2 separate regions of the Homo sapiens genome follow, and region 2 is reported to be linked to region 1. Evidence: microRNA targets listed by miRTarBase, many of them from high-throughput screens and not tested one by one. Region 1 holds a microRNA gene; the other region holds the end of a gene's coding sequence.

Region 1 (7,117 bases):
GTTGCTCAGGCTGGTGTCAACCTCCTGGTCTCAAGTGATCCTGCTGCCCAGGCTCCCAAAGTGTTGAGACTACAGGTATGAGTCACCGCACCTAGCCCCAAACATCTTATTGGACAAGCCTTTCTTGGCCACTCTATGCAGACAGCACCCACCTCGCACCTCCATCTCCCCTTTTTTTTTCTATCTTAATTGATCACCATAGCACCTATCATCATCTGACCCAGCATATAGTTACTTGTTTATTTGTTTGTTGACAGTCTGACACCCCCAACCCCTCATGAACCCCAGGAATGCAGAGACTTCTGTTAATTTTATTAAGTGCTTTATTCCCTGGAAAATGGTAAGTGCCTACTAAATATTTGTTAAATGCATAAGTCTCTATTTTGGAGATGACCTCCACACCCAGCCTCAGGCACAGAGATGTAAAGTAACTTACTCAAAATCACCCAGCTACTGACAGGCAAATCTGGGCCCAGAGCCCATGCTCTAATCTAAATCATTACTACCTCCCTGCTGGTAACAAACAAAACCTCAGCACAGTGCCTGCAACACAGTAAGGACTCAGTAAATGTTAAATAAAGGTAATAATGCTTATAACAACCATCTTTGCCCCCAGAAAGATCCTTACCTTGAGGAGATAGCAAGGATTTGAGATGTTCAATATAAAATACCAAGTATGGTGCCTGTGCATAGTTGGCCATCAATGAGTGGTGGCTATTTACTATTATACTTGTTATTTTATTATACTTTAGCACATTGTGTTGTACTTAAATACCACTTGTTTGCCCTACTTATCTTTGTCCCTCCTGAGGGTGCGGAGTGAGCCTTATTCATTCCAGCATTCCTACAATCTTGTACATCCATACAATTCTTGATATGTAGTTGACATACACTACTGTAAGGTACATGAATGAGTAAGTAGATAAAGGAATGAACAAATGGACCAGTGGTTTGTTGGGGCCACTCTGGCCAGTGGTTTGGGGACATGCTTCCTGGAGTCTTATCCCCTCTTGTCAGATTCAGGTTTAGGACAACGGTACAGTTGTTCCATTGTTCCCAGATAACATATCCTATCTTAACGTCTTTGCTGGGGCAGCCCTTGGACACACCCTGAGCTCCTGCCCTATCACTGGCCCCACTTGTACCCCTTGTGGGCAGGCACCACGGCAGCCTGCTCTGAAGGGAGCTTTCATGTGGCCGACCAACTCTACTCCTTGACTCCTCCCTTCTCTCATTGAAAAAAAATGTTTAAGGGGACATTTCTCTCTCCTAAACTTTTTATGTTCCATTGAAGACCTGGAAAACATGTTAAATAAAAATGCTTTGCCACAGCTGACCTATGTCTTCTGGCTTGTACCCCACAACATCTTATCTAATGGGTAAGTCAGTTCTTATCTTTATTTCACTACTGAAGAAACTGATGCATAAGTGTTATATGCTTTTTAAGTTACGTAGTATTAGTGAAAGAGCCTAGGGCCAGAACCAGCTGTCTGCACGCAACCCAATGCTTTTTCCACAAGAGTTACCCACATGGCTGTATTTGTTGGTATTTTCTACCCTTACCTGCTTCCAGAAGACTTTGGAAGGGTGTGTTACAAAAGCAGTGATCCAGGGCAACTTTCAAGTCTGTTAGCTCCTTGTGACAACCGAGCTGCCCTGTAAGGCGTAATGAGGAGCGGCTTCATAATGAGCTGAAGTAGTTCTGCAGATGACACTGCTCAAGGATGGGGATGCTTTCCTCTCTGCCATGTTTTCCTTTCCTGTTGGATTTGACTCTTAGATCAGTTGTTCTAAGACTGGGTTGAAGCTTGGAATTGCCTAGAGGATTTTTTAAATCCTGCTGCTAGTACCCCAGCTGCAAAGATTTTGATTTTGTCTGAAATGGGACCTGGGCATTTGGATTTATAACATCTCCCCAGGTGATTCTATTATGCAGTGGAGTTTGAGGACCACAGTCTTAGAGCATCCCTGTTATAGGGATTCTGGGGACTAACAAGAAGCTACAGACCCCAAACTATTTCAGATGTAGTTCCAGCCCTCCTAAGCAAGTGTTAGCTCGAACCTTCTCACTCTTGCTCAGATTCATAGCTGCTCACCTTTCAGAAGAAATGACAATGCTGAAAGAGGAAACCAAGGGGACAAGAGAGATGGCAGCCATCCCAACAGCTGTCTTGTGTTGTGCCCCTACTGTGTGCCAGACACTGTCCTAAGCACTTTACTTATATTAACTCATCCAGCTCACAACCAACAAAATGGCCCTAAGAGGCCTCTGCTGATATCCCCGTTTTCCAAATGAGAAAACTGTCCACGGGGTCGGTCAGTAACTTGTTCAACCTGGGAATGGCAGAGCTGGGATCTGAAGTCCGGGAGCCTGGCTCCGTAGGCCTCTGTTTAAGCCACTGCATCTGTTGCCTTGTGGAATGTTCTTAGAACTGTAGGATACTGGTTCCCACATGGCCGAGAGTCTTCTCTCACTAGTTCGTGCTCCATGGTGATGGAGAAGCATAGTTCTAATCTGTCATTCTGTTGCTCTGGAGCCTACACAGCCCCCCATCGCATCTGGAGGGAGAAGCCCAGCTCCTTAGCACAGCACCTGAGAAATACCCTTTACAGTCTGGCCACTGGCTGAACATTCTTTCACTCTCCATGCCACACTGCTCTGTGAGTACCATCTGAAGGTCCTCTCCCTTTTCTCTGTCTTCTAAATGTTCACTCTTCAATATCTAACTCAAATATCCTCTTCTCTAACTTGTCCAGGAAGAATGAGTAAGGCCCTTTCCTTTGTTCCCCAGGCTCTTAGTTTCTCCATCTCTAATCACGTAGATTACAGCCCTTTCTTTGGTTTTCTCCAGGGGACCAAGGAGTGGGGCTCTGCCTTTCTCATGTCTGCTCTGCCTTCACGGTCCCCCACAGTGTCTTCAGTGGATGGCCAACCTCTCATGAACAGGATGTCCTCTTGTCTGAGGTTCTACTTTGTTCCAGCCATGGAGTCATACTCTCTTTATCTTTTGACTATCCAAAGGTGTTCTGTTGGACGACTGATGCCTTCCTCCAAGGTACTTTGGGCTCCCAAGTGTGCAGTTGACATTTGCTGTGCCTTCTCCACCAGGCTTTAGTTTTTGATGTATGCTGAGCTTCAGTGGAGATTTGCTAGCCTTGGGCTTTCTGTGTTCTTGAATCTCTCAGAGTCCAGAAGAAAAGGAAAGCTGACACTTTCTAGGAATGACCTGTGAGAAGAGAGGTTGGTGTCTTGCTGCTAAGTTCCGCTTGATTCTGAACTAAGTCACCATGGGCCAGAGGAGGCAGGGATAAGAGGAGTGGTTTCTTGGCCACCAGAATGGAAACGTTTTTGTTTTCTTGTGTGCTTTTGTGGAAATGGTGGCAGTTGCTCACTAAAGAGAACTAAAACCCTTTTACTAGAGCCCCACCAGGTCTGAAGAGGATGGGCGCGTGGGAGCCATTATCTTGTAAAGGACGCTATTGAGACCTTGCTACTGCTGCAGTGAAGAGCACAGGAAAAGCCAAGCTTAAAAAACACTGGGCGAATCCTAAGAACTTTTCATGCAGAAACACATGCATGATGAGAAGAGAATCTTCATTACAACATTGTTTGACACAGAAAAACGAGACTCAGCTTAAATGCTCATTAGTTAGTGATTGGTTGATTAAGTTGTGATAAAATGGAACACTAATACAGCTGTTTAAAAAATTAGTAAAAAAAAATCAGTATGTGAGATGATGCACCTGTTAATTAACTCAACTTAGCCATTCCACAATGTATACATCATTCAAAACTTCACATCATATATTATAAATATATACAATTTTTATTTGTGAATTAAAAATTAATCTAAAAAAATTAGTGGCTATATGAAGTAATTGGGAACAATCTTGAAGCTATATTAACTACCAAAGAGCAAAGTCAACCTTAACAATGCTGACTTTTTAAAGAATAGTGCCTAGAACACTGTGTGGAGTATGCTAACAGCTACACACTAATGCACAGCCACCAACCCCAGATCAGTTACGTGAACTTCTGCATTCACAAACACACTTAACACACTCTGTGGCTATTGCCTCTTTACTGACCTGTAAGTCAGTTCTAGAAGACAGACGATCCATGAAGGCAGGTCCTAGCCTGCCCATTTGCATTGGTATCTCCAAGGCCAAGCTAGAGAAGGCACACAATAGGCTTTCCACTAATATTTGTGAATGAATGAATGAACAGAGAGAGGAGTTTTCTTTCCACAGTTTCCTTCTACCTGCTACTCCTTGAGCATATGAGGCTGGAATCTAAGCCCTGAGGTCACTCACTGCTCTCCTGGGTACTATCCCTGGCCTCCCGTCCTTTTCCTTGAGCTTCTGTGCTCTGCAAGGCTTTCTCATTATCCTTTAGGCTACAGAGAAACAAGGAGACGGGAGAGCCTTGAAATGGACCTTCAAGATTACAATGTGTAGCTGACATTGTCAGTTAAGTTGGGCAGATCTGACTTCGCTGATTAAGTGGATGTATGAGCCGATCCTCCCCAGAAGCTGGGATCAGCTTCCCCATCTGATGGTGAGTCAGACCTGCTGGGGTTTGGGTCCTCGCTCCAGCATGGCTGCCTGTGTGACCTTGGCCACTTTACTTAACCTTGCTGAATCTCAATTTCCTGATCTGTAAAGGAAGCTAAAAATGCCTCTCTTGAGGTTGTAGTGAGGATTAAATGTGATAGCATAAGTGAAAGTGCCCTTTGAAGAAAGAGGAAGGCGAAAGCGCTTATTGTGTCAGGAGAAATGTGTGGAGAGCCCCCTGTTGTTCTCAGGTGTCTCATCCTTCCCAGGGAAAAATCCCCATGCCAAGTCAGAAGAGGTTATAATTTGGCTCTTACTCTTTTATTCAGGCACTTCTTTCGGCTGCCCAGGGTTTTCAGCTTAAGCAAATAAATTACCCTTCTCCACTGGACTCTGTGTTCTGCAGCCAGCCATATGTTTAAGCTTGATAGAGATTTTTATCTGGCTTGGTAATATTACCCAGCAAGGGATGACATTTCTTATCAGAGGCCCTGAGGAATCAGAGATAGGAGCCCTTTCTTTTTCCTGGCCGCCAGGCCTCCATGTGCAGGGCTGGCAGGGAGGCTGGGAGGGGCTGGCTGGGTCTGGTAGTGGGCATCAGCTGGCCCTCATTTCTTAAGACAGCACTTCTGTTAGCTGACCTACACAGAAGCAGGTCATTTCGAGATGTTTGCGTCTTGGAGCCACTGATAGAAGCAGGGCAAGGGAGAGTGAATGAGGAAGGAAGGCGGGAGTGTGATGACGCATGCCCAGCTTTGCGCGGAGGCAGAGCACTTGCCTGTGTGGGGCCCTGCCCTTCTCTTGAGAGGCAGGCGGGCCCTAGCTGCAGCGTCAAGGTCTGGGGATTCTGTGGCTCTGTAGGGTGAAGGGCACTGGAGACCTACCAGGGGCTGGGCCATTGGAGTGGTGGGTGCTGGGGAGCTTCCGTGGGCCCCTCCAGGTCCACTCCTTGCTCTTCTCTGCCTTGTTTTGTGCCCAGAAGGCTGACCTGTGTGGATGCATTATCAGGGTGGATGCAACACAGGGCTGCCATGCTCTCTGGTATCAGTTTGGAAGGCACTGGCAGGATGGGAAGGCAGGCGGGGAGTGAGGTCAGGGGGCCTATCCTTCCACTGCCTCCCTGCTGCTCCCTGACTGATTCAGGTAAGGTTTACACCGGGGCTCTAGGTTTGAATTTTGATTCTGGCATGTACTTGCTGTGTGATATTAGGCAAGTGGTGGAACCTCTCTGTGCGTCCGACTTCTCATCTATAGTAACGCTTTTGCATTCCATTGATCTCTTTGCCTCTCATTTGCCCTGAATGCTGAAGGAAAGGACACTGCTGTATCCCCTGAGGGACTGTCTGAGCCCAAAGTACACTGGGGACAAGGGCTTCAGGGTGGGCAAGGAGATGACCGATGATCACGTGATTTGGAACTATAGCCTCCATTGGAGACACGTGCTCTGGGCTCTTTCCCTCCTGAGTTTTGGGAAGTCCTGGCCTGTGCAGCCTAATTCTCAAGTACTAATCTTGCAATCATAAGAAGAGGAAGGAGAAGTGGTTTTCCCTCTCCCTGGACCCATTCCAGCCAGCAGTTCCTGACTTTGCTTCCTTCCTGTTGGTGCCCACTCTGTTTCCTTCCATCCCTTCCCCAACCTCTCCCATCCCATGCCTCATGTTGGGCAACTTGAGTTTAACTGTCTCTTCTTCCAGTGGCCAAGTCCAAATTCTGAAAGCACAGTTCTGACCATGTCCCTGTCCAACTCAAAAACAGTAGCTCCGTGTCACCCACAGGCTTGAAGTCAGACCTCTCAGGGGGCATTAAGTCCACCGCAACATCACTCCAGCCTGTGAATAAAGACTGAATGCCTCCGAGCCTCTTATGTGGGGAATCAGTTCTGGTAAACAGGTCTCACTTCTTGTCTTTTAAACACTACTTGCTTTCCTTGACGTCTGTGCTTTGATCCCATTGTTTTTTCTCCCTTGGATGCCTGAGAGATCCATGGGCTCTGGCTTCAGAGAGTGCTGGGTTCAGACCTCAGCTCCAACAGTTGCTGGCTCTGTGACCCTAGGAATGTCACCTCACCACTCCAAGCCTCTGTATCCTTGACATTAACCTGGGCTGATAGTTCCTACCTGCAGGGTTCTTGTGAGAAGAACCTGTCTAAAGGCTCCTACTGGGGCTTGACTTGTCAGATAAATGAATGGGGTTTTCCCTAACCTTCTAATTGACTACCCCACTGATTATTCAAACTCCACCTGTCCTCAAGTTCCATTCCATCATTCACTTCCTCTGTGGGTTTTTCTGCCACAAAGTCATCTTCCTCTGTTTGAAAGACTCTTAGTTCCTCATGTATGACAGCAAGAGTGGACCTCATCTCTTTCTTTTTGTGTCTGACTTCCCAGCACAGTCTCAATTTCTTCAGGGCATTGACTGTGGTGTAAGATTCTCAGCTTGAGCACTGGAACCATTTATGGGACGATTGAGTATTCAACTCCAAGAGAATGAAAGAGAGTCACTTGTTCTTTCATTGAACGAAATTGATTGAGTGCACATGATATGTTGTGTCTGTGCTTCACAC
Region 2 (7,094 bases), not on the chromosome of region 1:
GATGGGGAGGTGGCTAGCTCCTCACCTGGCCAACCGGTCAGAGAGGAGGAAGTGTTGCTGAATATTGTCCACCAGGGAGCCCCGCATTTCCTCTACCACCTTGAAGACCCGTTTAAAGTTGTCAAACTGCAGGGCAGTTAGGGTAGAAGAGAGGACTGGTCAGAGTGTACACTGTGTCGCTCACCCAATAAACCACTTATTGAACATCTCTCCCTTCCCCATCCACCTATCCAGTCAGCAGATGCTGATTTAGCATTTGTTATTCCTTCAACCAACTATTAGTTATTAGTACTTGTTATCAAATCAAATGCTTAGCAACTCCTGCTGTATCTTGCCTTGGATAAATGTTTACTCAATCTTATCTCTAAATCCAACCCCATTTTAGCACCATGCTCTCCAGATCTTCACAAGTTTGAGTTGGAAGAGACTTTCCTGGCTAAGCCCTAGAAACTAAAAAATAAAAAACAAATGCTAAGCTATAAACAGAAAGCTCACAGGAGATACAAAAGAAAGGCATCAAAGACCCAGAAGGGTTACTTCTTCCTGGCGTACCAAAAAGGCTTGTGGAGAAGGTGGCATCTCACCTCTTGTCTTGGATTTCAAGGGGTAGATATTGCCAAGAACAGTACCCTCCAGGTAGAAGCAACATGAGTAAAGGAAAGCCTGGGGCTGGAGAAATGTAAGCCTAGAGAGGTCTGCAGGGATGAGATAACAGGACAGTCCATAGGTCAAAGCCAAGGAGTGCAGCTGCTACCCAGGAGGCAGTGGGAGCCAATGAAAGTTTATCAGGGGTCTGATAAAATTTCAGGTCATTCTGAAAGGTCACTCTGGCCATACAGTACAGGATAGCTTGGAAGGCACAACAGGGAGCCAGGCACGGTGGCTCACGCCTGTAATGTCAGCACTTTGGGAGGCCGAGGCGGATGATCACTTGAGGCCAGGAGTTCAAGACAAGCCTGGCCAACATGGTGAAACCCTGTCTCTACTAACAATACAAAAATTAGCTGGGTGTGGGAGCGGGCGCCTGTAATCTCAGCTACTGCAGAGGCTGAGGCACAAGAATTACCTGAACCCAGGAGGCGGAGGTTGCAGTGAGCTGAGGTCGCGCCACTGCACTCCAGCTTGGGCCACAGAGCAAGACTCCATCTCGAAAAAAAAAAAAAAAAAGGAGGGGAAAGGGGAAGGGAGGAGAAGACTAGGTATGAAGCTGCTGCCACAATCAGAGGCTGGAACTGGGCCAGTGGCCAAAGGGAGGGAGTGAAGTGTAGATGGGATGCTGTGTCCGTGTGGATGCAGTGCATACCTGTCTCCGGCAGCTCTTGAGGGTGATGCCTGTTTTGGTGCTGATGTCATCCAGGTCTTTCTTGGTGCCTTTGGACAGCTTCTTGCCCAGCACCTCCCGAACAAAGGCCTCATCAAAGGCATAGTACCTTGTGGAGTCAGAGAACACCATTGACCCTCCATAAAAGACAGGAAAGGGAGTCTGGCGGGGCCTAGCAGGGCCTAGGTCTGACCCCTTCCACTCTCAACTTTCTGATGGCTGGGTAAATCCCATCCCTCCCTGGGCCTGTTTCAGCCGGCAAAATGGGTATACAGTCAGACTGGTTGATGTCTCCACCATCCCAGAGGGTGAGCACCTCTCGATGAGTAGTGCCTGCCGGGAGGGCGGAATCTGGAAGATGAGCTGGTGCAGTAGCTTGGGCGGCGCATGCAGCAGCCGCTCGAGCATGTGGAAGGTGCGGTAATGGTCCATGGTGTCGCTCTGCAGCACCGCTGCCGTGGCGCCAGTCTGCTCCAGGATTCCCGAGCGCACCCGCAGGGCCACCGCGTCGGTCACTGGAAAGCGGACGCTAGCATCAGGCCCCGCCCCGCCGACGCCAGAGGCCCTTAAGGGTTTCCATCCCAGACCCCTATAACACCTCTTATTCCCAGGCGCTCGCCCACTTCCCTAAAGGATGCCCAAGTCTTAGCCCCGCCCCCTCTCCCATTCAACACAACCGCTCCGCCGACTGGCTTCCCCACACGCCCCTCACGGACCCGAGTAACCATCGAGCCAGAGGCGATACACGTCCTCGTCGATAAGGGTCGTGTTCCCCACGAAGATGTCCAGCTCACTGGTCATGGCGACGCCCGGGGCCGCAGCGCCCCGAGCAGGAGCGAGCACTGCTCGGGACTGGCGCGCCGCCTTCAGGCCACTTCCGGGAGCGCCGAGATTCCGCTCGCGGCATCGGGACCCAGCTTATGACCACTTCCGGGACACAGCCAGTCGGGGAGGGGACGGGGCGGGAGCGGCGAGGGAAGAGAGGGGGAGGCCTGCGCGGAGGAGCACCGCTTCCTCCCGCCGGGAGGGGGAGTCCCGGGCTCCTGCGTCCTGTCTCCCTCCCCGGCCGTCTGCAGGAGCACGAAGGGAGTGCCTCCTCTTCGTCTCCTCGGTCCCCGTAACTTCTCCCCTCACTTCCTCCTGGCTTTTCTCCCACCTTCTCTGCCCTCTTCGGGACCTCCTAAGTTTGACCTGTATCCTAAACTTAGGGGTTTCACAGGGCTCTATCCTAAATCTCCGCAAAAATGGGGTATGACCCGACTTCCTCGGGCTCTTGCTGGAGACTGGTTTGTCCATCCTGCGCATGAGCACCTCTCCTGGGTTTGGGGCACCTGCTCCCACCTTGGTTTTAATCCCACCCCCAGCCCCACGAGCTACTGACGTCTCTAATTCTGCCCCTCCGAGCTCTGCCTGGAAGTCCACATCCGGAGGGGCCGCCTATCGGCCAAGTCTATCCACACTCTTCCCGTAAGCCCCTCAAAAGCTCAACATATTCTAGACAGACCTCTGCCTCTCCCCATTTGTTTCTTTCCTGCGTCCCTATCTCAGTGACAGCCCTAACATCCACCAGTTCTCATACGAGAAACCTGGGCGTTCTTCCAGACTCCTCTCTCCCCACATTCAGTTCGGCTGATTTGCCTCCCGAATATTTCTAGTATCTGTTTGTCCTCTCCACCCCCACTGATGCTGCCCCAGCCGTCTTTCTGCTTAGCTCTCCTTGCTCTTGCTCTTTGACACCGTTACTAATCTCCCTGTTTATGTCCCCTCCCCGCAGGGTCCGGCCCACACAGATCAGCCCAATCTTTTTAAATACATTTTTTTTTTCGAGACAGCGTCTCGCTCTGTCGCCCAGGCTGGAGTGCAGTGGCGCGATCTCGGCTCACTGCAACCTCCGCCTCCCGGGTTCAAGCAGTTCTCTGCCTCAGCCTCCCGAGTAGCTGAGATTACAGGCTCCTCCCACCACGCCCGGCTAATTTTTGTATTTTTAGTAGAAACGGGGTTTCACCATCTTGGCCAGTTAAAGGCATATTTTAAAATGTTACTCCCTTGCTTAACATCCTTACAAATGTTACTCTCTTGCTTAACATCCTTAGTGGCCTTTGGAAATGCTCCAACCTGGTACTGGAAGTTCTTAAGAATCTGGCTTTTACCTACCTTTGAAGCCTCGCTCTCTCTCTCTTAGCATTTTCTCGACACATCTGCTTTTCAAAAACCAAGCTATCCTCATTGTTCCTAAAGCAGCTAGGCTCTTTCGGGCACCAGTGTCTTTCACTATGTTATTCTCTCTCCCTGAAATAGCTCTTTACTTGGCAAAGTCCTATGGATCTACCAGAGCCTCTTGGATAGCATCTCTTTTGGGAACCCTCTTAAGGACCCTCAGACCATACTCCTCCCGGATTTATTTCTTGCTTAACACAGCTTGACTTCCCGGACAGACTGCGACCTCCTTGAGGATGGAATCGGTATTTTGGTTAAATTTATTTCTGCATGGGCCTTGCACATAAAAAACGTTTATTGAACAAACGAATCCTGTATGTTCCTCCCCCCAGGCAGGAAACGCTCCCTGGGAGGGAGGGTAGTCTATTGGTGAGCTAGGACGTTTGGACTCAGGGTTCCGAGGAACCAGGAGCGATCCTTAGTGGGCCGAGACTTCCGAATTTGATCAAAGGTAAAGAGGGACTGGAGAGCGGTCCATCTGACTTCTGTGGGGGATGGGCAGGAGTCAGGGGCGGACGCCTGAATCTTGTTTCTCAGAAGAGCCGAGAGGCCTAGGCTCAAGCTTGGGGCGATCCGGTACTTGGAGGTTCGAAGCTCCTAGTTTCGGGTTGAGACCGATGTGGAGGGCGATGACGCGCGGGTTCCTTGACATCGAGGATCAGTAACACCCGGAGTGGGTGGGGAACGAGGGGGGCGGCCCCTGAGCTCAGGCCCCGCCCCTTTCCGGGGACGTTTCACCGGATTGGCTGTCCTTCCATAACGACATGCGGCCCCGCCCCGGCGCGCGCCCCGCCGCGTGCCCAGCCCGGGTAGCTGCTGCAGCCTACGCTGCCTCGGCCACTGCCTGCCGCGTGCGGAGCCGGAGCCCGAGCCTGAGTGGCGCCGGGCCCGACGTGGGGCTCCTGGGCCGCGGCGGCGGGCGGGCGATGCTCCAGAGGCCTGACCAGCCATGGAGGCCGAGGCAGGCGGCCTGGAGGAGCTGACGGACGAGGAGATGGCGGCGCTAGGCAAGGAAGAGCTAGTGCGGCGCCTGCGGCGGGAGGAGGCGGCGCGCCTGGCGGCACTGGTGCAGCGCGGCCGCCTCATGCAGGAGGTGAATCGGCAGCTGCAGGGCCACCTGGGCGAGATCCGCGAGCTCAAGCAGCTCAACCGGCGTCTGCAGGCAGAGAACCGTGAGCTGCGCGACCTCTGCTGCTTCCTGGACTCGGAGCGCCAGCGCGGGCGGCGCGCCGCACGCCAGTGGCAGCTCTTCGGGACCCAAGCATCCCGGGCCGTGCGCGAGGACCTGGGCGGCTGTTGGCAGAAGCTGGCCGAGCTGGAGGGCCGCCAGGAGGAGCTGCTGCGGGAGAACCTAGCGCTTAAGGAGCTCTGCCTGGCGCTGGGCGAAGAATGGGGCCCCCGCGGCGGCCCCAGCGGCGCCGGGGGATCAGGAGCCGGGCCAGCACCCGAGCTTGCCTTGCCCCCGTGCGGGCCCCGCGACCTAGGCGATGGAAGCTCCAGCACTGGCAGCGTGGGCAGTCCGGATCAGTTGCCCCTGGCCTGTTCCCCCGATGATTGAAGGCACTGCTTCCTCCACGCCGACGCCCGCCCGGATTGCTCCCCGAGCCCCGGGACCGCTGTGGACCTCGGGACCTGGACGCCGTCCTGGCTGCGCAGGAGGGGCCGCTGGCATGGACTAAGAAATCCTGACACCAAGAAGGGCCCCTCGCTCTTGCTGGCAGGGCAGCAGGGGGACTGAAGGCTGGAGCGGAGGGACTTGCTGGGGGTTGGATTGGGGGTAATAAACCCGGACGGAAGCGGAGCCCACGGCCTGGGCAGCGTCTGTTTGGTACTCGCCGGGGTTGGGGCGAGGGTGGGGTGCTGATACAGGGTACAATTCCCATCCAGAAGGACTGCAGAACTAATGATTCCCCCATTACTTCGAGCCTGGGGTGGGATGCGGGGCAGTGGTAAACCAGACTTCCCCCATCGGGCGCCGGGACCGGCCTTAATCCAGCCCCTGAAGTGGCTCCAGCTCCCTTCCCGGCTCCTTCCTGTCCAAGACAATGGGGCAGGAAGCAGGTGCTGGGGGCCTAGAACCACTCGGCCGCCTCCTCTGAGGCTGGAAGGGGGCATAACAGCGCCCCTCCGTGGCACACGCAGCAGCACTGTGGGCCCCCACGGGGAGAGGGGCGGTAAGCCTCTTCGCTTTTACCCCAGAGGACTGTCTCCCCTCAGTCCCGGAGATGAGGCCGAGCGGATGTAGCCCCACTTGTCAGATAAGACAAAGTCCAAAAATATCAAAGAATTTGTCCAAGGTCATGCAGTGAGTCTGTAGAGCTAAGGCTGGGACCTAGGGCTCCAAATACTCTCCCATTGGCCTCTGGGTCCAGTGAGGCACTCAGGCCACAGCTTCAAGCCTTTTATTCCATTTTGGTAGGTTTGTATAAAAATACTCTCTTTAGGAAAATAAATAGCAGCTGCCCTCGCTGTGGAGGCTTGGATTCCCTGGAGCTGAAGGCTTCTCAAAGCTGAGATCCGCAGATCAGCTCATCACAGAAGCCAAGGGCGCCTCCTGAGCTGTGCGGTTCAGGAGGGGGCGGCAGAATGGCCTGGTCCAATCACCTGCTGCTGCTGGCAGTGGGGCTGGTGAGTTAGTGTTCTAGGTGGGTAAAGTGGCACCTTCTGTCAGGAGATAGGGTTGGGTGGATCACAGGAAGAGGGTGATGGAGAGTGTGGCAGTGATCTGGAAGGGGTTAGGGCTCCAGAGGACCTCTAAGGATCTACAAAGTCTCTGGGCTGCCAGGATTCCTCTGGCACAAATGGGAAATATTTTGTCTCTGATTTAGTGCAAATTGTGCTAGAGAGGCCAGCTCAAGAGAAACAGTGGGCAGCTTTGGTGGCCCCAAGCTGGCTCTACTGTGAAGCACAATATGGTCAGTCTCATTAGAGGGATGGAGAAGAAGTTGCTGGAGTTGGATGTGGGATACTGTCCAGGCCAGCTGGACCGGTGGGGGAAGGGGAGGAGACATTGGCTAGGGTGGCATCTGCAGGGAGTAGGGCTCAGGCGCCTCACAAAGCGAGGAGGGTTGGAGAGCCAAGGGGGTCAGAGGATGGGTCTCCGCTGCTGCTGCTACTCTTGCGATGAGCTGAGGCACAAGGCTCAGGAGTGCTGGGGTAGGTGAAGACCAGGCTGGGGGTGAAAGGAGTTAGGGAGGGTGTGGTCATGAGTGTGGGGGTGTGCAGTGCCTCAGGTTCAAGCACAGGCCCTGGGGAAAGGGAGATACAAGGTACAGGGCGGCAGGGGGCTGGTGGGCTGCTGGTGCCACTGGTACTGCCTGTGTCCCCCTCCTTGGCTCCTTCCGGGATTTTGCAGATGGGTCGGTGGGCTTCCAGCACCAGCTCTAGGCGCTCCTTCTGCTTCTGCAGCTCCTCAATCTCTCGCTGCAGCCCAGATTTCTCATCTTCCAGTTTGTCAGTCTCCTGTAGAAGATCAGGAGAGGAGTCAGAAAGGTGAGGGCTGAATACCCCAGAGCCGCAGACGTTTGGACTCAGGGTTCTGAGGAGCTGGGGTTGG

The links. The annotated mature microRNA hsa-miR-1207-3p reads UCAGCUGGCCCUCAUUUC and lies in region 1 at 5,152-5,169, shown strand. An mRNA with a match to its seed (bases 2 to 7 or 8) in the 3' UTR can be bound and repressed. Matches are read on the target gene's strand: a 7mer-m8 pairs with bases 2 to 8, a 7mer-A1 pairs with bases 2 to 7 and ends in A, and an 8mer does both.
Region 2: miRTarBase lists FOSL1 as a target of hsa-miR-1207-3p. Seed matches in the 3' UTR shown: 7mer-m8 at 6,517-6,523.

The regions. Positions count from the first base shown.
Region 1 is chr8:128,044,052-128,051,168 of GRCh38, forward strand. It overlaps MIR1207 (microRNA 1207), which reads left to right and starts at 5,101; the gene lies at 5,101-5,187. All of the region lies in intron 6 of PVT1 (Pvt1 oncogene), which reads left to right. RefSeq lists enhancers at 670-2,141, 4,180-6,296, 4,816-5,361, cis regulatory regions at 1,160-1,661, 5,240-5,492 and a silencer at 4,444-4,627.
Region 2 is chr11:65,886,297-65,893,390 of GRCh38, forward strand. It overlaps FOSL1 (FOS like 1, AP-1 transcription factor subunit), which reads right to left. Exons shown (of 4, transcript NM_005438.5): 4 at 5,753-7,000. The coding sequence ends at 6,590. FIBP (FGF1 intracellular binding protein) reads right to left here and starts at 2,175. Exons shown (of 10, transcript NM_004214.5): 1 at 2,038-2,175; 2 at 1,638-1,836; 3 at 1,304-1,430; 4 at 26-126. The coding sequence starts at 2,122. CCDC85B (coiled-coil domain containing 85B) reads left to right here and starts at 4,377. Exons shown (of 1, transcript NM_006848.3): 1 at 4,377-5,339. The coding sequence starts at 4,488. The coding sequence ends at 5,096. RefSeq lists enhancers at 2,076-2,145, 5,788-5,837, 5,878-6,037 and silencers at 2,266-2,405, 4,168-4,647.